4 linked regions of the Homo sapiens genome follow. The protein of the gene in region 3 purifies or fractionates together with the protein of the main gene of each other region. This does not show direct contact. Each region holds a gene or a part of one and is shown on either strand. Other genes may lie near its edges. The genes, in order: ACOT9, MEGF8, PSG8 and TENM3.

Region 1 (7,030 bases), on a different chromosome or scaffold from region 3:
ATTACAGCTGTGCACCACCATGCCCAGCTAGTTTTTGTGTTTTTAGTACAGACAGGGCTTCACCATGTTGACCAGGCTGGTTTTGAACTCCTGACCTCAAGTGATCTGCCCGCCTCAGTATCCCAAAGTGCTGGGATTATAGGCGTGAGCCACCGCGCCTGGCATGTAATGGTAACTTTTCACTACATTTGGTATCCTATTTACTGATAATCTGATGGAAACTGTGGACCTCGAGCGGGCGTGGGAAGGGTTGGAATACATTTTTGCTCACACACACAATGGTATATACTATTTCAGGAGGTGCACAGACCCTTTTTGTACCCTCAGATCCCCCTATATTTGAAGATTCTGATTCAAACCAACCTCCTTAAGAAACTGAGGCCCCAGTTTCAGACGACTTTCCCCCAGTGCCAGTCAACAGGCACACCAGCAGAGTCCAGATAGAGCCCAGTTCTTCCGATCTCCCCCAATACATACACACACACACACACACACACACACACACACACACACACACACACCGCACTGAGGTGGAGGAGGTGGGAGAATGGTTTTAATCAATACTCAACACTTCAGTACCTCAGGGTTACTGGCTTATCTCCTGATAAGCCCTCAGGAGTCTTACTTATAGCAAAACCTCTAGGCCTTTACTGTGGAGAGGCCTTTGCAACACTCAAATCCCAGGACCTTGTAACTGAACCTTTCCAATCAAAGGAGATCAAGAAACTCAAGGCGGGGGGAGTGGGGAGGGACAGCATTAGGAGATATACCTAATGCTAAATGACGAGTTAATGGGTGCAGCACACCAGCATGGCACATGTATACATATGTAACTAACCTGCACATTGTGCACATGTACCCTAAACTTAAAGTATAATAATAATAATAATAAAAAGATGATTATTACAAAAAGACAAAAGATAACAAGTGTTGGTGAGGATGTAGAGAAAAGGGAACCCTCGTACACTATTGGTGAAAATGTAAACTGGTACAGCCATTTTGAAAAATAATGAGGCAGTTCCTCCAAAAATTAAAAATATAACTACCATATGATCCAGCAATTTCTCTTCTGGACATATATCCCAAAGAAATAAAAAAAGTATTTCAAAGAGAAAAAAAAAAAAGAAAACTCAAGGCCTCCATGGCCTACCTGGGGAGTCACATAACTCACCCTGGCTCAGCCCTGGGTCCCAAGCTTACAGCAGTTGGCAAGGAAGAGTGTTCAGTGCAATAACAGGCAATACCACTCATATGCCCTCCACTCTGAGGAAATAACCTCTATTTAGAGACTAAACAAAGGTGCCTCTTGCAAGTCTAAAAAAGAAAAGAAGCTACAAAGGTTGCCCACCAGTCAAAGAACCTAATCATCTCAGTCTATATTCATTTGTGAACTCCTCCTCTCACTAGACACTAAGAGATTATCCGCTTAAGGTTCAATAGTTTTTTGTTTGAGACAGAATCTCACTGTGTTGCCCAGGCTGGAGTGCAGGGGCGCGATCTCAGCTCACTGCAACCTCTGCCTTCCGGTTCAGGCGATTCTCCTGCCTCAGCCTCCAAAAGTAGCTGTGACTACAGACATGCACCACCACTCCCGGCTAATTTTTGTATTTTTAATAGAGACGGGGTTTCACCATGTTGGCCAGGCTGGTCTCGAACTCCTGGCCTCAAGTGATCCATCCACCTCAGCATCCCAAAACGCTGGGACTGCAGTCGTGCACCACCACACCCGGCCTCAATAGAATTTTCAAGAAAGGAACACAGGGTTATAAGAGAAAGCACCTGAACAAGACCATGGAGCTTTTGTAGAAGACCTTTCACATTGCAAGCTAAAGTCAACTGTGGCCCCTCTCATAATGACTTTCAGTCTGCCTTCAAATAGTTTAACAAAGGTTTTTTGTTTGTTTTTAAGTACTATAAACAAGACAGAACCCTTACAACTGATAACAAAGTCCCCAGGAACAGTGAGTGAGTGAGAGAGAGAGAGAGAGAGAGAGGGAGAGAGAGAGAGAGAGAGATATCCAGGACCCCCAAGAGAATTGATGGGGTTAATGTGAGTCAAAAGCACTATGAGTCACATCAGGGGGACAGGCCCACTGGCAGCGAGATAACTTCAGAAACTGGAGCAGGTGTGAGCCCCCTGGGATGCAGCCAGGCAGAAAACTTGGAAAGGGTGGCATGCTCGGGTGAAAGGGATTAGGGAGAGCTAGACACGCTCTGGAGTCTAAGGCCCTCAGGCCTTAACTGTGCCAGCTGGGAAGATTACATATACAAAAAGGCATCCTCCCTTACCCACGTGGCCCAATCAAAGCACCCAGCCTCTTATAAGGGCTTTGCGGCTCATTAAAGTTAAGTTCAAATTGGCACCAGGGTCCTAGACGCACAGTCCTAGGGTCCTGGGAGCCAAAAGGTACCCTGTAATCTCTGCCAATGTTACAACAAACTTAAGTAAGAGCCGAAGTAGGTCAAGCATTTAATCCTAAAAATGTTCTCCAAAGGAAGATGAAGGGCTAGAGGTAACATAGAACTCCAAATATTATCTTTCTGACAAGGGGCTACCCCGACGCGGCTACCAACCACACCCCGGATGAGCAAGGCCAAAGGAATTTTAGGGAACACCCAACTTCCTCCCTTAAAAGTGCTGCTTTGCTTTTAATATCAAACTCAGTGCTAGAAGTCGCCAAAGTGGGGGCGAGGTTCTCCCAACCAAAGGCCGGCGGGCTTATGTCCGGTCGGAGGTACAGTGGGCGAGCGCCCCTTATCATAGAGCCCAAATGCCCATGCGTGGCCCACTTCTTCCGCCGGGGCCAGCCCGAAGCTCTAGGGGAAGACGATGGCACCCCAGGCTACCGCCCTGCCAGCCCCTTCCACGCCCCGCCACCTACCGCAGTGCTGCCCGCCTCATTGCGCTAGGCTGCCGTGCGCGCGATGGAGAACCGGGCCCCGCGCGCTAGTCGGCGGAGGGAAACTGAGGCGATAAAAGACGCACGAGTACCAGACCGCGCCCTTGCTGAGGACAGCCCGGGAGCCGGACAGCGGTGTCCGGGGGCGGGACCGCGGCGTCCAGGGGGCGTGGCCGCGCTGTGCCGGGCGGACCCTACCCGTTCATTGGCGGGAGGCTGGAGTCCGCCTCTGCGGAGCTTCCCACTCAATCAGTTGTGCGGGTCGTGTTGCTACAGCGAGGACCGGCCTATTCTCGGTTGAGTAAACGAACCACGCAGCAACGCCAGGGCGTGACGTCGAGAAGAGGCCCGGCTCTGCCTAGTGGAGCTTGTCTCCTTTATCCTTGATCCCCGCGCCTTGGCTCCGTCTGTTCTTCCCCTTGGCTGCACATTGGAATCTCCTGGGCAACTTTCCAAAATACTGATACTTGGCCGGGCGCGGTGGCTCACGCCTGTAATTCCAGCACTTTGGAAGGCCTAGGCGGGCAGATCACCTGAGGTCAGGAGTTCAAGACCAGCCTGGCCAACATGGCGAAACCCTGTCTCTACTAAAAATTCAAAAATTAGCCAGGCGTGGTGGCAGACGCCTGTAATCCCAGCTACTCGGGGGACAGGCACGAGTATCGCTTGAACCTGGGAGGCGGAGGTTGCGGTGAGCCGAGATCGCACCACTACACTTCAGCTTGGGCGACAGAAGGAGACAATGTCTCAAAAAAAAAACAACAAAAAACTGATGCTTGAGACCCACTGGCTGGAGATTCTAGTTTAGTCCTGGGTGCGGTCTGGGCTTCGGGATGATGTCTAAAGATGCCCCCAGGTGATGCTAATGTAACCAAAGGCTAAAAACCACTGACCTAACAGGAAAAAATTGTTCCTCTCCTCTTCTCGGCCTGACCCCCAATGTTTGATATCTTGGGCGAGCTAGAGAGATTCAAGGCCAGAGAGTTTAAGATTATTTCACCCTACGATCTAATTCTCCATTTCTTTCAACGAATTATTATTGAGCTGTTTGCATTGTGCCAGGCACTATTGCAGAGGTTGGGGTTGCAAAAAGAAAAAAGGACAAAAATCCCCGCCCTTAAGGGGCTTGCCTCTTGATAAGGAAGGAAAACAAATCAACAAACAAGTTAGCAAATAACATGATCTCAAATATGGTAAAGCGGTTTAAAGGGGAAATAAGGTAACGAGTGGGGATCTTTTGAGAATATAAGCAAGTCTTGCTTTGCCTCTAAATACGGCAATTTCCTAAAAGGCAAGGGCCATATGCTTTTTCGCAATACCCCATACTTAGTAAAAATGTATTGATTTGAATTAAGCTAGCTTTCTGTTTTGAATCACTTCATGAGTTACACATGGAGCATGGTCTTCGGCTTTCTCTTTCTACTGAATTTTCCCTGCTTTTATCAATCTCACATCTGGAAGACTCCCCTTTTAGCCTACAAGGATCTCTCCTTCATTTTTGTTCACATTGTCTTTTCATTTTTGTCACATTGTTCACATTGTTCACAAGTCACTTTTCAGTGATTGTCTTGTTGGTTTTGGGTCAGCCATATTTCTTTATACTCTACCACACCTAACACAGAGGGCAATAAATATTGTATTGAATTATGCTATTTTTGTTCTTCTTTTTACTTGAACTTTTCTTTGAAGCAATAGGAGGCTCAGGGAGAAAAAATAAGTACAAGAGAGAATTTTTTGTAAATGGTATAATAGGTAGGTACAGTTTATAGTTTTTCCCGCAATCAAGTCGCCTTCCGTCAATTTCCAAATTATAAAGACACATTCTCATCAATATAATAAACACCATCGATTTTGGCTGGAACAGCTGAAACCAGGGACTTAATGCCATGCAGATGCCTTCTCTCTATTGCTTATCTTTGCTTTCCTTTGCATACTGGCTTCATTCTTTTTTCTCTCTATGTAATGACATTCTCCATATGGCAATAGAAGCTCCTGAACTTTACATCTTACAACCACAGCCACACACATACAGACTGACTGAAATTTCTACGGCCCAAATACAAAAAAGTTCTGAGAAGAGATTCATTGGTCCAATTTGGATCAGGTACACACTCCTGGACTAGCCAACTGTGGCATCAGGGTAAGGAACCCTTGCCCTGACTTACCAGGAACCCCCTCACCCAGACTCATGGCCAGGTACTGGGTCACAATCTACTAACATGGTTATTTCTGTAAGTAACTGTACAGATGGGGATACGGAGCACCTTCTTAGAAAAGGAGTACCGAGGCCGGGTGCGGTGGCTCACGTCTGTAATCCCAGAACTTTGGGAGGCTGAGGCGAGTGGATCAACTGATGTCAGGAATTCAATACTGGGCTGGCCAACATGGTGAGACCCCTGCCTCTACTAAAGATACAAAAATTAGCTGGCTGTGGTGGTGGGCGCCTGTAATCCCAGCTACTCGGGAGGCTGAGGCAGGAGAATCGCTTGAACCTGGGAGGCGAAGGTTGCACTGAGCTGAGATCGCGCCACTGCACTCCAGCCTGGGCAAGAGACTCCATCTCAAAAAAAAAAAAAAAAAAAAAGAAAGAAAGAAAAGAAGAGGAGTATGGAGCAGCCAACCACATAGATGTCCACTAGAAGGTTAAAGAGGGAAAAAAATGATCACATCACTTAGCCCACCTACCTTAGTTGTAACTTCAGGGAACCCCTGCTAGACCTAGCCTGCCCAGCATTCATCCACGAGTCTCTAACTACCTCAATTGGCAGCATGCATAAAATTCTTAAAACAGCTTAGCAACTCTGATTTCTGTGTGTGTTGTTGTTGTCGTCATTATTATCAAGCATATATGCTATACCACATTTTGGATAGCAGAGAAGGAAGGGGAAATGGTCACAAAATCAAAACAGGAAACATACAACAATTGTATAGTGGTGAGAATCACCGTCCTTAAGTAACAGGTTCTCTACCCAACCTTTTTGTTTCCTGTTATGTTCTATTAGTTCTATTTTAATATGGTCTCAGGATAACAGAGATGGTATCAATTGTGTAATTAAAAGTTACTTAATCATGCACTGACAGATACATAAGATATTAATGTCGTTATTACAAGTAAAACAATAAAATCAAATAACAAGGCTGGAAAGCAGTATCCCAGCACTTTGGGAGGCTGAGGTGGGTGGATTGCTTAAGAACAGGAGCTCAAGACCAGCCTGGTCAACAGAGCAAGACCCCATCTCTACAAAAAAAAAAAAAAATTGTTTAAATCAAACAACAAAACCTAACAAGGCATTGTCAGGTCTTCTTCTTTTTTTTTTTTTTTTTTTTTTTTTGAGACAGAGTCTCGCTCTGTTACCAGGCTGGAGTGCGGTGGTGCGGTCTCAGCTCACTGCAACCTCCGCCTCCTGGGTTCAAGCGATTCTCCTGCCTCAGCCTCCCAAGTAGCTGGGATTACAGGCACGTGCCACCACACCCGGCTAATTTTTGTATTTTTAGTAGATATGGGGTTTCACCATGTTAGCCAGGCTGGTCTTGAACTCCTGACCTCGTGATCCTCCCACCTTGGCCTTCCAAAGTGCTGGGATTACAGGCGTGAGCCACCGCGCCCGGCCAAAGGCATTGTTAGTTCAATCTAGTATTATGAGTGAAAAATATCCAGTTACCATCTTTCCTTGGGCTGCTGAATAATATATACTTTTGGATATCTGATTTAGGTAGAAAATGTTCCTGGAAAACTGTCATCAACTTTCAAACAAAGTGATTCGAACTACGATTTCATTAGGACACAGAAACTTTTTAAAAATATATCTTATTTCCTCAATTATTCAGATTATACAAAAGGATCCACAATAAAGTTAGGAGGGGAGGGCCAGGCACGGTGGCTCACGCCTGTAATCCTGGCACTTTGAAGCTCGAGGCAGGCAGATCACCTGAGGTCAGGAGTTCAAGACCAGCCTGGCCAACATGGCAAAACCCCCATCTCTACTAAAGGTAAAAAAAATGAGCAGGGCATGCTGTCGCGCGTCTGTACTCCCTGCTACTTGGGAGGCTGAGTCAGGAGAATTGCTTGAACCTGGGAGGCGGAGGTTGCAGTGAGCCGAGATGGTGCCACTGCACTCAAAGCCTGAGCG
Region 2 (7,034 bases), 430 kb from region 3:
TATAAATCACTCTCTGGCCTTAAAGAGTCCCAGACTGGTTAGGCCAGGTGCGGTGGCTCACGCCTGTAATCCCAGCACTTTGGGAGACCAAGTGGGGCGGATCACCTGACGTCAGGCTTTAGAGACCAGCCTGGCCGACATGAAGAAACCCCCTCTCTACTAAAACTACAAAAATTAGCCCTGCGTGGTGGCGCACATCTGTGGTTCCAGCCTGGGTGACAGAGCGAGACTCTACCTCAAAAAAAAAGAAAAAACGTCTCAGACTGGTTGGGAATGGTGGGGCTGGACACAGATATTCAGCCCCCAGTGTGTTCACTGAGACAGTGCTCAGGGCTAAGAAGGAAAGTGGAGGGGTGGGGTGGATGTACCTAGGGAGGAAAGAGGACTGTGCTGCAGATAACAGAGCAGGAGCCACTAAAATAGGGTTCTGAAGCATGCATAGGAGTTTATTGAGTGGGAAAAGGGAGCAAACAGCCTCTATGAAGACGTGAGGGTGGCTGGAGTGTCTCAGGATCCCCATCTAGGTTTGCCTGGTCTTATGGCACTTTTGACTGGGAGGTAATGAGAGCCAGAAGCAGGGGAAGAGGGGCCTTGAATGTCACACTGAGCAGCCTGGCCTTCCCCTTGGGGTTGATGGGCAGCCACAGGAGGTTTTGAGCAGGAGTAGGGCATTGCCCTCAGGTTGGGTGTGGGGCAGACTGGAGACTTGATGAGCTGATCTGGCAAGAGAGGATGAGTTCCTAACTAGGGCAGGGGCTTAGAGGGGTGGAGAGGTGTAGACAGTGCAATCGATGTTTGTGGAGTTTCACCTATAAGACTTGGGGACCAACTGGGTAGATGTTGGGGTGAGGGAGGAGGCTGGGAGACCTCCAGATCCCCCTTGATGATCTTCTGTTCTTACCAATGCCTGTCACTTCTTACCTATAAGAACCAACATCTTCCTCTATCTATTATAAAATAAACAACCAGCCAGGGGCAGTGGCACATGCCTGTAATCCCAGCACTTTGGGAATCTGAGATGCAAGGATTACTCGAGCCCAGGAGTTAGAGACTAGCCTGAACAACATGGTAAGACACTGTCTCTACAAAAAAATTACAAAAGATTAGCTGGGCTTGGTGGGTGGTGGCATGTGCCTATAGCTCCAGCTACCGGCGAGGCTGAGGTGGGCAGATCCCTTGAGCCTAGGAGGCTGAGGTCTCAGTGAGCCGAGATTGCGCTGCTATACTCCAGCCTGGGCAGCAGAGCGAGACCCTGTCTCAGGGAAAAAAAAAAAAAAAAGATAAACAACCAACCTACTAACTTTTGTATTATGTTCATACTTTATCTAGTCCTAGACTTTTTTTTTCCGAGAGAGAATCTTGCTCTGTTGCCCAGGCTGGAGTGCAGTGGCTTGATCTCGGCTCACTGCAGCTTCTGCTTCCCAGGTTCAAGTGATTCTTGTTCCTTGGTTTCCTGAGTAGCTGGGATTACAGGCATGTGCCACCATGCCGGGCTAATTTTTGTATTTTTAGTAGAGATGGTGTTTCTCTATGTTGGCCAGGCTGGTCTCAAACTCCTGGCCTCAAATGATCTGCCCTGGGATTACAGACGTGAGCCACCACGCCCAGCCCAGTCCTAGTCCTTATAACATCCTCATGGATAAGAGGCATCCTGCTTTTGAGCAGGAGGGAGTTTGGGATCAGATTTCTGTCTGGAGTGGTATGGGGGTTGGGTGGAAACAGAAGACCTTCAACTTAGGGAAGAACTTGGGGAGGCAGATGGTGAGCTGGCCTCCAGCAGGCACTTAACAAAGATGTACTTGTGATTCCAGAAACAGAGCTTTATAGTTTGGTTGAGGCTGGTAAGATTCTGGGAGGTCTGGTTGTGTGGCCGTGCTGAATGGTTCTTCTGCATTCCCCAAAGCATGGGTGGGGTCTGTGTCTGATGTCTTGGGGGCTCTGGTTAGAGCCTGAGGGAGAGCTTCCAGCTTTAGTATTCTGTCTTTTATGTATTTCTTCATTTCATCATCCAGCATTTCCTGAGCCTTTGCCAAGCCCGGGTCTGGGCAATGCTGCAGAGGGAATTAGGTCCACATCCAGGCCCTGCTCTATGGGCCTTGTAGGCTGCAGGGAGACAGACCTGGACATAGATGTTCCTGGCCCAGAGGAATGAAGGTTATAATGGGATGTGAGAACCCTGGAGAGGGGGCATCTAACCCAGCTAGGGGGCATCAGGAAGAGGCCTGGTGGTGGGAAGGGATAATATGTTGCAGACAGAGGGAGAAGCTTGTACAAAGGCCCAGCTCCCATTAGAGCTGTAAGCAGTGGGGTGATTTGAGACAAAGCGAGGGTCTGAACAGCAGGTTAGGGACCTGGACTTTCTCCTAGGGTGGTAGGGAGCCATGCAGGGCTTTGGGGCAGGGGAGGGACGGGGCCAGATGTTGAGTTGGGAAGATCAGAGACTCATGTCAGGGGAAGAAGGAGGTTGGATCAGTGGTTCTGGTGAGACAGGATGAGGCCGGGCAGCCAGGGCACACTCTGGCTCTAAGCTGGCAGGCTGGAGTCATCACCTCGTTGAATGTTCACCCCAGCCTTTGTGGGTGGGGGGAATTATCCCCATTTTACAGTCATGGAAACTAAGGCTCAGAGAGCCCATGGAACTGGCCCAGGATCACCCAGCCATTGGCAGTGGTGGCTGAGTGTCTCCAGGATCCAGATAGGCACACTGAGGGTCATGGGGGAAAGGGCTGGCCCAGGGTCCTCCAGCTGGTCATGGGCAGAGCCAGAGCCAGAGCCAGAGCCTAGGCCTCCTAATTTCCCTCACCCAGAGGACTCCCCTGAGCTGCCTGTTCAGAAGGCTTCTCATGTGGGATGTGGAATGAGAGAGGCTACCTGAACTAGGACTGGCAGAGAATAAGACAGTGACAGTGTTAGGGGTAGTGGCACTCTCCACGATATGTGGGCCCCATTGTCAACATTTCTTTTTTTTTTTTTTGAAACAGAGTTTCACTCTTGTCGCCCAGGCTGGAGTGCAATGGCATGATCTCAGCTCACTGTAACCTCTGCCTCCCGGGTTCAAGAATTCTCCTGCCTCAGCCTCCCAAATAGCTGGGATTACAAGCATGTGCCACCATATCCAGCTAATTTTTTGTATTTTTAGTAGAGACGGGGTTTCACCATGTTGGCCAGGCTGGTCTCGAACTCTTGACCTCAAGCGATCCACCCACCTTGGCCTCCCAAAGTGCTGGGATTATAGGCGTGACCCACGGCACCCAGCCTCTTTTTTTTTTTTGAGTCCCCTCTGTCGCCCAGGCTGGAGTGCAGTGGTGCAATCTTGGCTCACTGCAACCTCTGCCTCCCGGGTTCAAGCAATTCTCCTGCCTCAGCCTCCTGAGTAGCTGGGACTTGCACCACCATGCCTGGCTAATTTTTGTATTTTTTTTTAGTAAGAGACAGGGTTTCACCATGTTGGCCAGGCTGTTCTGGAACTCCTGACCTCAGGTGATCCACCTGCCCTGGCCTCTCAAAAGTGCTGGGATTACAGGCGTGAGCCACCCACCCCACTCTGTTGTCACCATTTCGTGTGCATTATTGCTCCTCATGAGGTTGCAGTCAGATGTCAGCTGGGGCTGCAGTCAGCTGAATGTTCACCTTGGCTGGACATCCAGGAAGGTCCCTCCCAGGGCTGGCAGTTGATGCTGGCTGTCAGCTGGAAGCTCAGTTGGGACTGTCAGCCGGAATGCCTGTGTGTGGCCTTTTCTTGTGGCTTTGGCTTTTCTTTGTTTTTTTTTTTGAGACGAAGTCTCGCTCTTGTCCCCCAGGCTAGAGTGCAATGGCACAATCTCGGCTCACTGCAACCTCTGCCTCCCAGGTTCAAGCAATTCTCCTGCCTCAGCCTCCCAAGTAGCTGGGATTACAGGCACCCGCCACCATGCCCAGCTAATTTTTGTATTTTTAGTAGAGACGGGGTTTCGCCATGTTGGCTAGGCTGGTCTCAAACTCCTGTCCTCGTGATCCGCCTGCCTTGGCCTCTCAAAGTGCTGGGATTACAGGTGTGAGCCACCGTGCCCAGCCGGCTTTGGCTTTTCCTATCATGACAGCTGTGTTCTGAGAAGGAGCATTCTACGAGGCCCAGGTGAAAAGTACAAGTCTTCTTATGATCTAGCCTTGGAAGTTTCAGAATTTCTGCTGTTTTTTTATTGGTCAAGCAAGTCACTAAGGCTCTTCCCAGATACGAGAGGCAGGGAATTAACTTTCAATGGCAGGAGTGGCCTATAAGTTTGATTCCACCACAGTACCACTATATCCCACTTTAGAGATGAGGAGACCGATCCAGAGGGGGTGGGTTACTTGGCCAAGATCACACAGCTGGTAGCTATTTGGTGGCAGAGCCAAGACATAAGCTCAGGCAGTCTGGTTCCAGAGTTTGTGCTTGTAACCATCACAATAAGCAGAGGTGAGACTCTGGATGGGGACAGAGGGGAACTATGCCGCTCCAAGGTTAGGCCTCTGTTCTGGGGGAAGAAGCTGGACTCTTCTCTTGCAGCTCTATTCAGCGTGGGCCAGGGGTGGTGTCACGGAGGTGCTCTTCTCACTGGGATTATGACCTTGACCCTCCAGCCTGGACATGTCTGAAACTCAGGCATGGACAGGAAGAGAGAGGCATCAGGAACACTGGATTCTGCTCTGTGTGGCCACTGGGATGGGGTTTTCTCTGTACTTAATTTTCCCATCTGAATGGTGGGAGTGTTCATTCTGATCTCAGGTGACCTTTCTAGAGGTCTGGAATATTATGATTCTTTCTCTGGGCTCCTGTCCCTCTGGCTGTCACAGCCCTTGACTGCCCTAGGTTATGAGACTGGGGGCCCCTTCAAGGCGGGGCCCAGGTCTGACTCATTCTTGAGCCCCCAGCATCACCTGGATCAGGGTTTGGTGTACAATTGTGGGAGGCTGCAGGGAGGTGTGGGGAGAAGGTCCGCTTTAGAGCTTGGTCCCTCTGTGCTCACCTCCCAGCCCCAAGCCCCCAGCACCGGATCCTGCTGGACTTCCTTTTCCTGGACACAGAGTGCACGTATGACTACCTGTTCGTGTATGACGGTGACTCCCCGCGAGGGCCGCTGCTTGCCAGTCTAAGTGGGAGCACCCGACCTCCGCCCATCGAAGCTTCCTCAGGCAAGGTTAGTGGGGATGGGGCCGTGGCAGATACACCGAGGGAAATGGAAGAAGAAAGGAGGGACAGAGAGTCAGTAAGAGGGCATCCAAGAGCAGAGCACAGGGACAAGGGAAGGTGGAGAGAGGCAAAGGAAGGAGATGAGGCTCTGGGTCCCCCAGGGTGGAAGGGGGCAGGAGTGGGCCACCCTCCCAGGACAATCCCCAGGCCCTGCCCACCTTACCCAGCACACCTTGTGCCCGCAGATGCTGCTGCACCTCTTCAGTGATGCCAACTACAACCTGCTGGGCTTTAACGCCTCATTCCGCTTCTCCCTGTGCCCGGGTGGCTGCCAGAGCCACGGGCAGTGCCAGCCACCGGGTGTGTGTGCCTGCGAGCCGGGCTGGGGGGGTCCTGACTGTGGCCTGCAGGAGTGCTCAGCCTACTGTGGCAGCCACGGCACCTGCGCCTCGGTGAGCCGGTCCCCAGCCCTGTTTCCCCTGGGGCCCTGATCTGTGAGCGCAGCCTCCACGCCCATCTCCTAGGTCTGACCTTGCTCCTGCATGAAACTCCCCCCACCACCCCACCCTCCTCCGTGACACCCACTTCCCTCTCCTTCCAGAGCTTGCCCCTCACCTGTTACTCCAACCCCACCCCACCTTCACCTGCAGGGCCTCCCCTGCTGAGGATATCCCACTCTCATCTATACCCCACTCTCATCTGTGAACACCACCCTCCTTCCTCCAGCCAGGCCCAAATCTGTCCTCCCATCCAGCCACTCTGTGTGGCCTTGGACCCCTGCCATGACTTCCAGCCTCGCACCACTGACCTTACGCCGAAGCTGTGTACATCCAGCTTTCAATCTGGATTGCGCTTTGAGCCCTCCCCGCCTTGACCTCCCCAGATCTGAGCTCTTTCAGTCCAGGCTGAATGTCAACTACGCTGTCTGTATTCTCCCAGCCTGCCGTCTTTCTGTCTTTTCTCCTTTTTCTCTGTGCATCTTTTCCTTTTTCTGTTGGTCTTCTTTTTTCCGTCTGTCTGCTTCCTTCTGATTGTTTCTCTTTGTCTCTTGTTTCTGTCTGACAGTTTGCCTTTCCCCTCTTCCTGTCTCTCTCTGTCTCCCTTTCTCTCTCTCTCTTTCCTTTTCCATCCTCTCCCTTCCTGTCTGTCTCTTTCTCTCTCCCTTTGTGCCCTGTCTGTCTCATTCTGCCTCTTTTCCTCTCTGTGTCTCCTTTGTCTCTCTGTCCTTGTCTCTCCCTCTCTTATCTCTGCCTTTATGTCTCCTTTCCCGCAGCCCCTGGGACCATGCCGCTGTGAGCCTGGCTTCTTGGGACGTGCCTGTGACCTGCACCTGTGGGAGAACCAGGGGGCTGGGTGGTGGCACAACGTGAGTGCCAGGGACCCTGCCTTCTCTGCCCGTATTGGGGCAGCTGGCGCCTTCCTGTCCCCACCAGGGCTGCTGGCAGTTTTCGGAGGTGAGCAGATGGGGCGAGTATCTGGGATCTGGAGGCCCGGCAGCCTATGGCCAGGGCATGAGACTATCCACCCCTCCACAGGCCAGGACCTCAACAATGCCCTGGGTGACCTCGTCCTATACAACTTCTCCGCCAACACCTGGGAGTCTTGGGACCTGAGTCCTGCCCCGGTATGGACCCCTCCTCTGCCCTGGAGGAGCCTTTCCACTCAATCAGACCCAGCCGGGGACCCCCGGAATGATCCCCTATCACCTAGTGCTCCCACAGTTCCTGCAGCTTGATATAGGAACCTACTTCTCCCTGTTTCTGCCTTTTCTCTCCGGTTTTCTTTTTTCTTCTTCCTCTTCCTTTATCTGCCTTTGTGCATCTTATTTTTCCATGTGTCTCCTGTTGCTCAATCTGTCTCTGTTTTCGTCTGTCTGACTTTTGGG
Region 3 (7,098 bases):
ACTTTGGGAAACACAGGATTTCAGGTTCAGTGATGGGGGCTAAGATCTGAGGGGGAGGCCTGGACATGTTTTTTCCACTGACTCTGATGGTTGAGGCAGGTGATTTAGTTCTGGAGTACAGACTAATCAGTTGACCATTTTCTCTCACTCCTCTGAGGTTTGGATGCCTAAGAAGAGAGGTTTTGAGCCAATAAATGACTATGGGGTGCTTGGAAGCCAGTGAGCCCTCACTTCTGGTGGAGGAGAGGATGAGCCTGTGGCTGCGGACACACCTCATGTGACCCTGATCTCCCCTTTGTGATTGTGTGACTCTGGCTCAGGGACTGTGTCTTCCTGTACCTCAGTTTTCTGTCAATCAGATAAGCTAAATGGCAAATGGACAGTGGCTTTTCATGCTATCTGTGAATAAATGTTAAATGATTCACAGTCACCTGACCTAATGCTTGGCACAGTGGAGGTTTCACACAAATAGCATTTATTATTAATTTGCTTCCATGAGAAAGCCCCTTTGCGTCAGATCCCTGTGGGCAAGCTGCTACCAGGTACATCTTCTCTCTTGTGTTTCTGCTTCTGGGGACATTAGACTTTCTATGGACTGGCCTAAGCCTCCTAAGGCAGTTGTCTGATGGCCTACAAAGCTTGTCTTTCTGTCCTCTCCACTCTGAGTGTCAGGTGAAGAAAACTCTGTCCTTGCCCAGATGAGGCTCTGAGGGCTGAGCCCTGGCTGGTGAACAGCTCCAGGAGACACAGTCCTCTGACAGCTGGTAAATCCTCGGTCCCAGTAAGCCCTGCCCAAGAAGCCACAACCCAGCCCCAGCACAGGCTCCTCAGATTTATCTGGAGCAAGGATTTAGGGACACTGTTCTGGGGGTGAGGCTTCTAGGGCTGAGCTTCTCTGAGAGTATCTCAGGGGCTCCTCAGGCCAAGCCCTACTCAGTTCTCCAGGGTCTTTCTCAGGGTCAAATTTATGAAGAGGGCATGAGGTGCTTGTCTGAGACTGATCTCCTCCTGCTGAGTCCCCCCATCAGACTGTCCTTCCTCTGCAGCGAGTGTCTGCAGGGTCTGGATGCGGGAAAGGAATTCTGATCTGTTGAAATTTGTCTCCTCTGTGTGTGTCCTGCACTAAATGCCCAAACCCCAGCATGGGACATAATGCAGAGAGGGACACAGGCAATGTCCAGGCCTGACAATCCTGTGTGTGTGAAGTAGAAGTGACCCCTGTCCCCCAACACCCAGGGATCATGTGGAATCACTCACGATATAAGGTGAAGGTGAAATGTCCAGTTACTCCTCTATTCTCATCACCTCCCATTATGATGTGTAAGGTGTAGGATCCTGCGTCTTCCTGGGTGACATTCTGGATCAGCAGGGATGCATTGGAATATATTGTTTCTCGTCCACTGTATGCAGGCCCATATATAATTATTTGACCGTCTACTACATATGATGTAATGTAATGGTAGAGGTCCCTGATTTGCCCTTTGTACCAGATGTAGCCAGTAAGATTCTGGGGCAAATTGTGGACAAGTAGAAGAACATCCTTCCCCTCAGAAACTTTGGTTGGCTGGGCTTCAATCGTGACTTGGGCAGTCGTGGGTGGGTTCCAGAAGTTTAAAAGTGATGCTAGGAGGTGGAGAGAGCATCAGTCAATATTGAGAGCTATGTATTGGTGTGAAAACATGGGGCCCTGGGTCCTGAGAAGTTCTCTTCAGTCCTCAGCCTTGAAGACACAGACACACACACATACAAACACACGCACACACACACACAAAAGCGGCATGTGTGTCTGTGTGTGTGTATGTGTGTGTGTCCTACTATCCTACTAGGTCAAGGTCAGCCCCATGACCCCCATTCCTTCAACACTTCTGACCTTGGCATTTTTCTGTTTGCAATCCTCTTCCCCAGGGGTCCGCATGGCCCCCTCCACACTGCCCTCAGGTCCTGCTCACATCAGGGCATCCTTAGATTTCTTTCCTGACACCTCCTTCAGATACCCTGGGTCTTCCCTTTCTGACCTTTCCCTGCTCTGCTCCCTCCAGGGTTCTTCTCAACACCTGACCTTACATTCTAGATCTCTTTGCATGTCTGTCTTCCCCTCCATGACAGCGTGAGCTCCATGAGGACAGGGATTTTTGTGATCTTGGTTGCACCCCAGTGCCCAGAACAGGCTGCAGACTCCTGTAGATGTGAGAGTTCTCAGGGCCCTCCACGCCCTTGGTGTTTTTTTTTCCCCCCAATTGTTGAGGTTTCTTGCTGAGGACAGTGTTTCATGCCCTGTGTATATTTTTATGTGAAGTGTCATCTGATACAGTTATTATTATCATATTTCAAAATGTGGTGGCCCCTGATGATTAATCAGGAAAACAGAACACAAGATTTTCCTACCTCTTACCAATTCTGGTTCCTGTGACTTTCCTGTTTTGACCCCTGTCCCTCTCTGGTGTATTTCCCCCTATCCAGGCTCCAATAGAGCCTTCTTTCCTTTTTCTCTTTTTTCTCTTTTTTTTTTTTTGAGATGGAGTCTCATACTGTCTCCCAGGCTGGCGTGCGATGGCACTATCTCAGCTAGCTGCAACTTCTGCCTCCTGGGTTCACGTGATTCTTCTGCCTCAGCCTCCCGAGTAGCTAGGATTAGAGGAGCACACCACAATATCTGGTTAAATTTTTGTATTTTTAGTAGAGACAGGGCTTCACTGTGTTGGCCAGACTGATCTTGAACTCCTGATCTCATGATCCACCTGCCTCAGCCTCCCAAAGTGCTGGCTTCTTTCATTTTTTAGTACCCCATACTCTCAAGGAGACCCCATCCAGTCACTCTGCTTCCTCCTCCTGTCCTCTCCCAGGAGGTTCTCTCCTCACCTGTGAGCAGGAGCCCCTTCCAGGTGATGCGCTGTGTGCAGGGAGGGGCTGAGAGGAGCCCCATGGTCTCTGCTGTCTGTGTGTTCTCCTCTGTGGAGATGAGCCTAGGATCCAGAAGCTTCCTGAGCACAGCTCTCAGCAGTGCTGTCCTGCCTCCTTCTGCGCTGAGCTTCTTCCCGGGGCAGGAGCACCTCTCAGGTTCATGGGCGGGGTCAGGCCCAGGACACCTCTCTGTCCCCTCCTCTCTCAGTCCTGCCTCCTTGTCCCTCCTGTTTTTCCTTTTGTCTGTGTTTCAGGTCCCTGGGAATTGTGGAGGCCTCTGCCTTTTTCAGCAGTGATTCTTTCACCAAACCTCAACACACACTTTGTGCAGACACACACACACACACACACACACACACACACACACACACACACACACACACACACAGAAGGACACACACAGACCTACACAGTCAGAAACATACCCTGCAGGTTGGGCAAGCAGAGTCCTGGGCCTCAGCCTCCTGCTGTCCCCATGGCTCTGGGTCGGGGTGCACATTCATGCCCTTTGGCCTCTTTCATCCCCATCTGGCTCTCCCCTTCAGTGCAGGAGGCTGGAGCTGCACCAGGTCCCTGTCACAGTGACACCCCATTGTGCTGTGGGTGAGCTGTGTGTTGCCTGGTGAGAGGGACCCTTCCTTTCTCTAATCGTGTCTAGCTTGGCTGCAGCTTCCAAGGATGGACACTCAGGACCTGGGTGTCCCAGAGGAAACTGTCCTTCCTGGAGGTGTGCAGGGTGAATCTCTCATGTCTCTTGGGAGGAGAGGCCTGTGCTGGTTGCTCAGTGGGGGCTGTGAGTCCCATAGTCAAAGGGACAGTTCTCGGTCACTCTGTGACTCCGTGGGGTCTGGCCACTGAGCTGGAGCTCAGGGTTTCTCATGTTCTTCCTGACCATCTTTGATGTCCTCTCTTCTCTGCCCAGCTGATTGTCCTGTGGTCACCACACCTTCCCCGTGGTGGTGCAGGAGGAAGTGGGGAGTCACCCAGGAACCCCAAGGGAGATGGCTCGTTGAGACGCAAGAGGGTGTGCCTGGGACAGAGCAGGGGTTCAGAGCTGGAGAGATTCATCTTGACTTACTCCGTGGCCATGATGGGCTCAGCCCTCCATGTGCCGACATACCCAGGGGTCTGTCCTGAGGGTTTTGACCTGGCCAAGCTGCTGTGTGTAGAGGAGGAACAGGCAGTGGCCAGAGAGCCTGTCTGGAGGGACCTTGCTCACACCTGAGGGGGCGTGTGGGGGTGAGTTGTGTTCTGGGAGCAAAGAGCAATAACATCCCGCTTCTCCCTGCAAGCGCACAGGAGAGGTCTGCCTTCCCAAGGGACAGCTGGGGCAGGTGGCCACATCCCGGATGGTGCCTGTGTGTGACCATCACACGCACTCTGAGCACCCCGTGGTGCAGCGGGCAGGCAGGTCATAGGGTGCCTGGCTGATTCCCGGGGAGGCTGTGGGCCCTTAGGCAGCTGCTGTTCTGTGTCAGTGCTAGGCTTGGCCTGGGATGCCCCAGAGAACAGGATAGATGGGGCAGGGGCGGGCATTTAGGGAGCAGTGACAGAAAGAGTTGATGAGGATGGAGGGAGGCCACGAGGGGAAAGCGCCTAGTGTGGCGTCGCGTGCACCAGCGCTGCCCTGGGAGATGCCTTTAGCTGGGCCCAGGGAAGGAGCAGGTGTGTGGGGAGGAGCTCCCTGCAGAGGGAGTGGTGTTAGGTTGGCGGCCACCAGGTCAGGGTGGAGCTGGCAGAGTCCGTGTGGGGAGCATGGAGGGCGCTGAGGACTTGGGCCGAAGTGACCCTGGTGAGGGTGGACCCTGCTGGGCTGTGGGTTCCGCTGAGTGAGGTTGGCATCCCCTGGGAAGGCTCCAGGCTGGGAGGGACTCTGTCCCCCTCTGGTGGACAGGGAGGGAAGTGTGAACGGCAGCAATCCCAGGCCAGGCTGCATGTTTTATTCCACATGGATCTGCACACTTCACACGAGGTCACACATATGTTATGTTACAGCTCCTTCACCTTCCAGCCCCGTGAGTCCCAGTCTGTGTGGCTCTATGTTCACTGTTCTCCCTCTTTCACAATCAGATGTCCCAAACGCAGATTTTTGTCACCTTCTGTGAGTTTGTGTTTGTGTGCAGTAGGCGGCACTGTGTATACCCTGGGGGCAGTGATGTCTGGGGCTGAGCACTGCAATTGGGCTTGGAAGCAGAAGAGGGAGCAGCAGGGTGGGAAGATCAATGTCAGGGGGCAGGGACAAGTCATTTTCATTTTCTTACTCCCAGGGACCAGAACCCTGGATTCTGACTCCAGGGCACAGTACCACACCCTGCTGGTGTCCCTGGATGTCATGATGCTCATAGTGTCATGTTGTCTTGGCATTCATTTTTATAAGGTGTAAGTTTATTTGCCTCAAATCAGAGGCAGGGCTTGGTCACCATGGCAGTTTTCAATACTGTGTCTGGTTCAAGTGGCTCCAGTTGGTGTCCAGAGATAAAATCTTAGAGGCATCTCTGCTGCTTGGTGTGCTGGGTTTCCCTCTCTCCAGCTGCTTTCTTTAAACTGATAATTCTGACATTTGCCCTCACATTTAAAGTGACCACCTCTCAGTCACAGCGTGAGCTCCTGGTCCCAGTGTTTGCTGCTTGCTTTGAACACATCCATTAAAGCTCCCTGCTGGAAACCTGTCAGATAACACCCTGGACTTAATAAAGCCATTGGCTCACCGGTCTCTTCTCTCCTCCCTGTCTGGGCTCACTGACCTCTGTGTCTGTGGTCTCCAGGTTTGCCGAGTGCTTCCTAGTGTCTGTAAGTAGTAAAAATACTTACATTTTCACGTTGTGGTTGTATTATTGTAGCCTCACATGCCATCCAGGGCCTGACATTGAGGCTGCCTTATGGGACCTGTGCTGGTTGAGCCCCTGCTGGAGCTCTTGTTTTGGGGCGTCTGGTTCTCCTGGGGACAGGAGCTTCCAGCTAACTTGATTGAAAATCTGATGCCTTTCATTGAAACACTGGGTCAGATGATGTATTCATGGGCTTCGGCTGCCATAACAAACACCTTAGCCTGGGTGAATTAAATAATAGAAATCTATTTTTCACAGTTCTGTGAATAATGTGCTATTGTAACCACTTTAAAATGCTGAATCAAATGAAATTAACCACATACACAGTGTTAAATTACCATCACCACTATTTTTCCTAGAAAATTTTTATCATTTTAAACTGAAACTTTGTATCTTTTAAACAATAACTCCCTGTATGTTCCACCCTAGACCTTGATCTTCTCTACTCTGTCTCTATGAATTTGCCTGTTCTTGATGTTTCATATAAATGGAATTATACAATTATGTTATTTTGTTTCTGACATATTTCACTTAGCATAATGTTTCCAAAGTCCATGCATGTTCCAGCGGGTGTCAGAGCTTCATTCCTCTGTATGGCAGATTAACATTCTGTTGTATGTGTCACCATATTTATTTATTTATGTGTTGATGAGCACTTGAATTATTTTCATTTTTTTCTTTTTTCTTTTTCTGTTTAATAGTGTTTTTTTTATCATTATTATTCTTATACTTTAAGTTTTAGAGTACATGTGCACAATGTGCAGGTTAGTTACATATGTATACATGTGCCATGCTGGTGCGCTGCACCCACTAACTCATCATCTAGCATTAGGTATATCTCTCAATGCTACCCCTCCCCCCTGCCCCCACCCCACAACTGTCCCCAGAGTGTGATGTTCCCCTTCCTGTGTCCATGTGTTCTCATTGTTCAATTCCCACTTGTGAGTGAGAATATGCGGTGTTTGGTTTTTTGTTCTTGCGATAGTTTACTGAGAATGATGATTTCCAATTTCATCCATGTCCCTACAAAGGACATGAACTCATCATTTTTTATGGCTTCATAGTATTCCATGGTGTATGTGCCACATTTTCTTAATCCATTCTATCATTGTTGGACATTTGGGTTGGTTCCAAGTCTTTGCTATTGTGAATAGTGCTGCAGTATACATACGTGTGTATGTGTCTTTATAGCAGCGTGATTTATAGTCCTTTGGGTATATACCCAGTAATGGGATGGCTGGGTCAAATGGTATTTCTAGTTGCAGAATCGCCACGTTGACTTCCACAATGGTTGAACTAGTTTACAGTCCCACCAACAGTGTAAAAGTCTTCCTATTTCTCCACATCCTCTCCAGCACCTGTTGTTTCC
Region 4 (4,157 bases), on a different chromosome or scaffold from region 3:
CAAGTGTGATGAAGTCTGCCTCTTCCGACTAAAATCAAAGCCCTGGCCTGCCGGCCAGAATTGCTGAACTAAGCATCTTCTAATCAGCCGGTCTATATGTAGATTTAGACATCTCCAGGAGGCTGCAAGCCTACCAGGCCCAAACTGATTATTCTAATCAAGTGTTTTAATTAAGCACACTTATTGCCAGGATCACAGGAATGAGGCCTGCTCTCAAGTAGTAATGGGTGGTATTTTTGTAAACTCTTCTTTACAGTTAGCGTGTTTGGCTTTGTGGGGGTGTGTTTACTGTTTTTCTAAAGTAGGCCATGGGAGAGTCCCCTGTGAAGTTCACTCTGCTGAGCCAGCAGTCTGGCCAATGGACAAAAAAAAAAAAAAAAAAGATACTACCAACTGGGTTGCAGATGAATCAATTCCCCAACAACTGCATCTATTTGCGTCCTCCACGTTAAACACAAAAGCAATGCTGGCTAGCCCAAGACTTGAAAAAATATAAAAACACACACACATTGGGTTGGCTTTTATTGGAATGCCTAGGTGCAATCTATAGTCATCAAGTTATGGAAAATTCAGGTCACATATAAAGTTAAGAAGGCAAATGAAAAGAACAATACAAATCAGACAAAATTTACATCTCAAAATATCATGAAAGCATTTTGACTGGCTTTGCCTAAAATACTTTGAATATCAATTTCTTTTTTGTAAGCTAATTCTTTTCATTATACAGTCCCCCACCCCCTCCCAACTCTTAGAAAAAGGTCTTTTGTTTACATATTCCCCAAGGTCACTATTTCTTGTAAAAGCATGTCCAGATCACAAGTCTTTTTAGAAAGAAATAGGCTCATTATACCTACTAACAGGACACTAATTGGGTTGATTTGACTTCATCATCTAAAATAAGCACCAGGAGATACTCCAAATCTGTTATTTATCGGTGCCCGAGTGAAGACCAGTCCACGTCAAGAAGAGGTTAAGACTATGATCTCACTTCTGTCATGTGGCACAAGCTTTTCATGGTAATACATCAGAAACATGTCTGAGAATTTAGACTCAGAGCCTATTTCACCCAAAAGTACTTACAGCATGCTAAATACAGGCCTGCAGAAGTTCCACGGAACAGAACTGCAAATACCTAACAGTTAAAAAATAAAATGGAAAACAGAATCATGTTTATGTGGTTTGAAATCTCATAGTTTTCTAAATTTGGGCTTCATAATACTTGCCAAAGGATTTCCAGAATAAAAAATATTAATGCTAATCTGTGCTTTCATTCTAATAAAATATCATCAGCATTCATTAGAAGATTAATTACTTCGGTATGCTCTACCAAATACACAAAGACAGTAATAGCACTGATACTGTAAATTCAGTAGCTATTTTGAAACTTTCCCAGCCAATCATCTGTTTAATAAACACGCCTACTGTGCAATTTAGAGTATGTGATACATACAAAGCAGTTAGAAAATTATTTTCAATACATCACTTGAACCTTTATATTTACGACATGTTCACTTGCTATATTTTATCACCATTATACATAGAGGAAAACAGTGTGTACTATAGCTCGATGAACTGAGAAATATCTTCTAAAAATATTTTCGTGGCTGAATTTAGTGCTCAGGAAAGAGATTTGTCAGAGCTGAGCCGACACGGAAGTGCAGATGGCGGCTGGGCTCGTTCCCACACGCGTGCATGCATGTGTGCAGGAGGGCGCGGCTGTCAGTTCACTTCCAGCTGGATCTGCCACCCCCGGCTTCCCCGAGACAGAGCAGAGGCTGTCATTCAAACCAGCCCCCCAAGATGGTTTGGTCATGTGGGCTTAGAGTAACCCTGACCGGCTCCATCTGGCTCACCCACCACTGCTCGGTTTCTGCTGTCTTTCCTAGATCTTAAGACACGTGTTTAGGATCACGACTACATCAGAACCTTTCCTCCTCCTATTTCCCCAGCATCTGATGTGGTCTCTCCTCCATCAAGAGACAGAGCTTTGGAACAGTAACAGTAAAAACCTCGGGGTTAATTATATCAACAACTCCCCATTGACTTGCAAGGTTGAGAGAGGGCCAGAGAACCCTTCCTCCCGTTTTTTCAATCTTCTTCCCTTACATTCCACCAGCCCTAGTTGTCTACTGTGCCTCTCAGTTGACAATGCTGAGGACACTGGCCTGATGCGTGAGAGAGGGAAGAGAAAGGAGCTCTCTGATTCGCCACCCACCTAGAATTGCACGGTCCTATCCATCTAGTGATAGAAGCTTGCACATTTTTTCAACCTAATACAAAAATATTAACACTTCTGGACATTATAGGCATAAGTTGTTATATCTCTACAATATAATAATTCATACTGTACAGCTATAACAGATAACAAAAGGTGCAATCCTTTTAAAAAAATCACACAGTTCACGTTTTTATCATTTTATTTTTAAGTATAAATTTTTAAACACTTTACATAAATTAACTCCTCTGAGACTAAGATTTGATGTACAGTAAATTGTAATTCATATAAAAATCCATAAACAACTTGTCTCACATAATTTACAAAAAAATCAGGATTTCCTTTGCTTATCAGTGACAAGGATTCTAGTTGCCAGTTTTTTCCCCGAAGGGAAACCACGTTAGCATTGTAAAATCCATTAATAAATCCCCGCCGCAGAAGTCACTGTGCCAATGTCCTTCTACAAAGCTGCACAGGGAAAGCAGTTGGGTTGTCTAGAAACAGTAACTTTGCCCCACATTGTAAAATGAACAGAGATAGCTATCACATCCTATGCAGACAGACTACTTCTTGTAAGCAAAGGTCGACAATTCGGGACTATTTGGAAACACTGTACACATTTTTTTTTCTTTTTTAAAGTTAGTTAAATACAGTGCCTAGAAGGAACAGACGGCCCAGCGCAACAGGTCGAGGCCTTTGTCCTTGATGATTTTTTTTTCCTCTGGCTACGTTCAGTCCGACTGAGTGCAGCGCTATGCATATGTAAACATATTCGTTAAAGCCGATCACCTTTAAGGTCATTCGGAAAAAAGCGGTCCTTGTTTTCGCGGTGTGGGTGTGGGTCGTAACAGCAGTCTCATTCCCCCGGGAGGAAGGCTCTTGGGCGTTGGAGAGTCCCACTCGGGTTGTGCCACAGGACAATGTGGGCAGGGCGTGAGCGGCTCGGCGGGCGCGGCCCGGGCGTTACCTCCTGCCGATCTCGCTCTGCCGCAGGAACTGGATGTTGTTGGCGCTGTCGGCCAGCTCGGGGTACTGCTCCACCGAGAGTACGTAGTACCCGTCGTAGCCCTGCACCTTGCCGGCGCTCAGCAGCTGCCGCTTCTCGCCCTCCGTCCAGAGGCGCGCGCCCTCCTCGCCGTCGCGCACGCGCTGCTGCTCGCGCGCCCAGGCCCGGGCGAGCGCGCGCTGCCGCGCCTGCTCCAGGATGCGCGCCTTCTCCTCGTCCAGGGTCATGCCGTAGCGCACGTGCAGCGCCAGCGCGCCGAACTGCATCTCCACGTCCGCGAACCTGCGCGTCCTGCCGTTCACCACCGTGGTGGACTGCGACACCGTCACGTTGATGCCGTTCTCCAGCGCCTTGCGGCCGCTGGTCAACCGCAGCGTGCCCAGGTCGCTCTCGGGCGTGGTGGTCTTGATGAAGTAGTGCGTGTCCTTGCCCTCGATGGTGAAGTGCAGGTTCTCCAGGTAGAAGGCGTTGTTGAGCACGGCCGCCACCTTGATGCAGTCCTCGTTGGCGATGTTGAGCACGTTGGTCTGCACGCGGCCCTGGCTGACGGCCAGCATGACGCCCTTGCCGATCAGCGACTTGACCGTGGCGAACCACAGCCAGGACTGCGCGCCGCCGGCCCGGCGCCGGCTCACCTGCACCTCGGCCATCTTCCCCAGCGACAGGAAGGCCTTGGCCTGCCGCGCCACTTGCTGCTGGACTCCGAAGATGGGCTGCGGGCGAAACAAAAGAGGGGGCGCGTCAGAGGCGGCCGGGAGCCTCCCCACTCCTGACCCACACACGGGACTCTGGGGGCAGCGCCGGGGCATGCATGGAAGCCCCGGGGTCCTTCCCTGACCAGAAGGCTGACAGCCCGGGTGGAGGGAGCACTCGAGATCCCTCCCCCTCAAGGTGATCCCGATGCTCTGGAACCCCCAAATGGCTCACTCATCGTGG

What was found.
Region 1: the proteins of PSG8 (region 3) and ACOT9 purify together in Homo sapiens (affinity purification with mass spectrometry; 2 studies listed by BioGRID and IntAct, with this or other methods). This does not show direct contact.
Region 2: the proteins of PSG8 (region 3) and MEGF8 purify together in Homo sapiens (co-immunoprecipitation; 3 studies listed by BioGRID and IntAct, with this or other methods). This does not show direct contact.
Region 4: the proteins of PSG8 (region 3) and TENM3 purify together in Homo sapiens (affinity purification with mass spectrometry; 2 studies listed by BioGRID and IntAct, with this or other methods). This does not show direct contact.

The regions. Positions count from the first base shown.
Region 1 is NC_000023.11:23,740,243-23,747,272, forward strand, and holds the start of ACOT9 (acyl-coenzyme A thioesterase 9, mitochondrial isoform a precursor), read right to left. Parts: upstream 3,035-7,030; 5' UTR 2,903-3,034; coding exon 2,883-2,902; intron 1-2,882. UniProt on the Homo sapiens protein: Mitochondrial acyl-CoA thioesterase. Catalyzes the hydrolysis of acyl-CoAs into free fatty acids and coenzyme A (CoA), regulating their respective intracellular levels. Regulates both mitochondrial lipid and amino acid metabolism.
Region 2 is NC_000019.10:42,328,613-42,335,646, forward strand, and holds part of MEGF8 (multiple epidermal growth factor-like domains protein 8 isoform 1 precursor), read left to right. Parts: intron 1-4,992; coding exon 4,993-5,156; intron 5,157-5,394; coding exon 5,395-5,601; intron 5,602-6,422; coding exon 6,423-6,603; intron 6,604-6,684; coding exon 6,685-6,773; intron 6,774-7,034. UniProt on the Homo sapiens protein: Acts as a negative regulator of hedgehog signaling.
Region 3 is NC_000019.10:42,762,659-42,769,756, forward strand, and holds the start of PSG8 (pregnancy-specific beta-1-glycoprotein 8 isoform a precursor), read right to left. Parts: upstream 3,021-7,098; 5' UTR 2,924-3,020; coding exon 2,860-2,923; intron 1,624-2,859; coding exon 1,258-1,623; intron 1-1,257.
Region 4 is NC_000004.12:182,799,373-182,803,529, reverse strand, and holds the end of TENM3 (teneurin-3), read right to left. Parts: intron 3,935-4,157; coding exon 3,179-3,934; 3' UTR 506-3,178; downstream 1-505.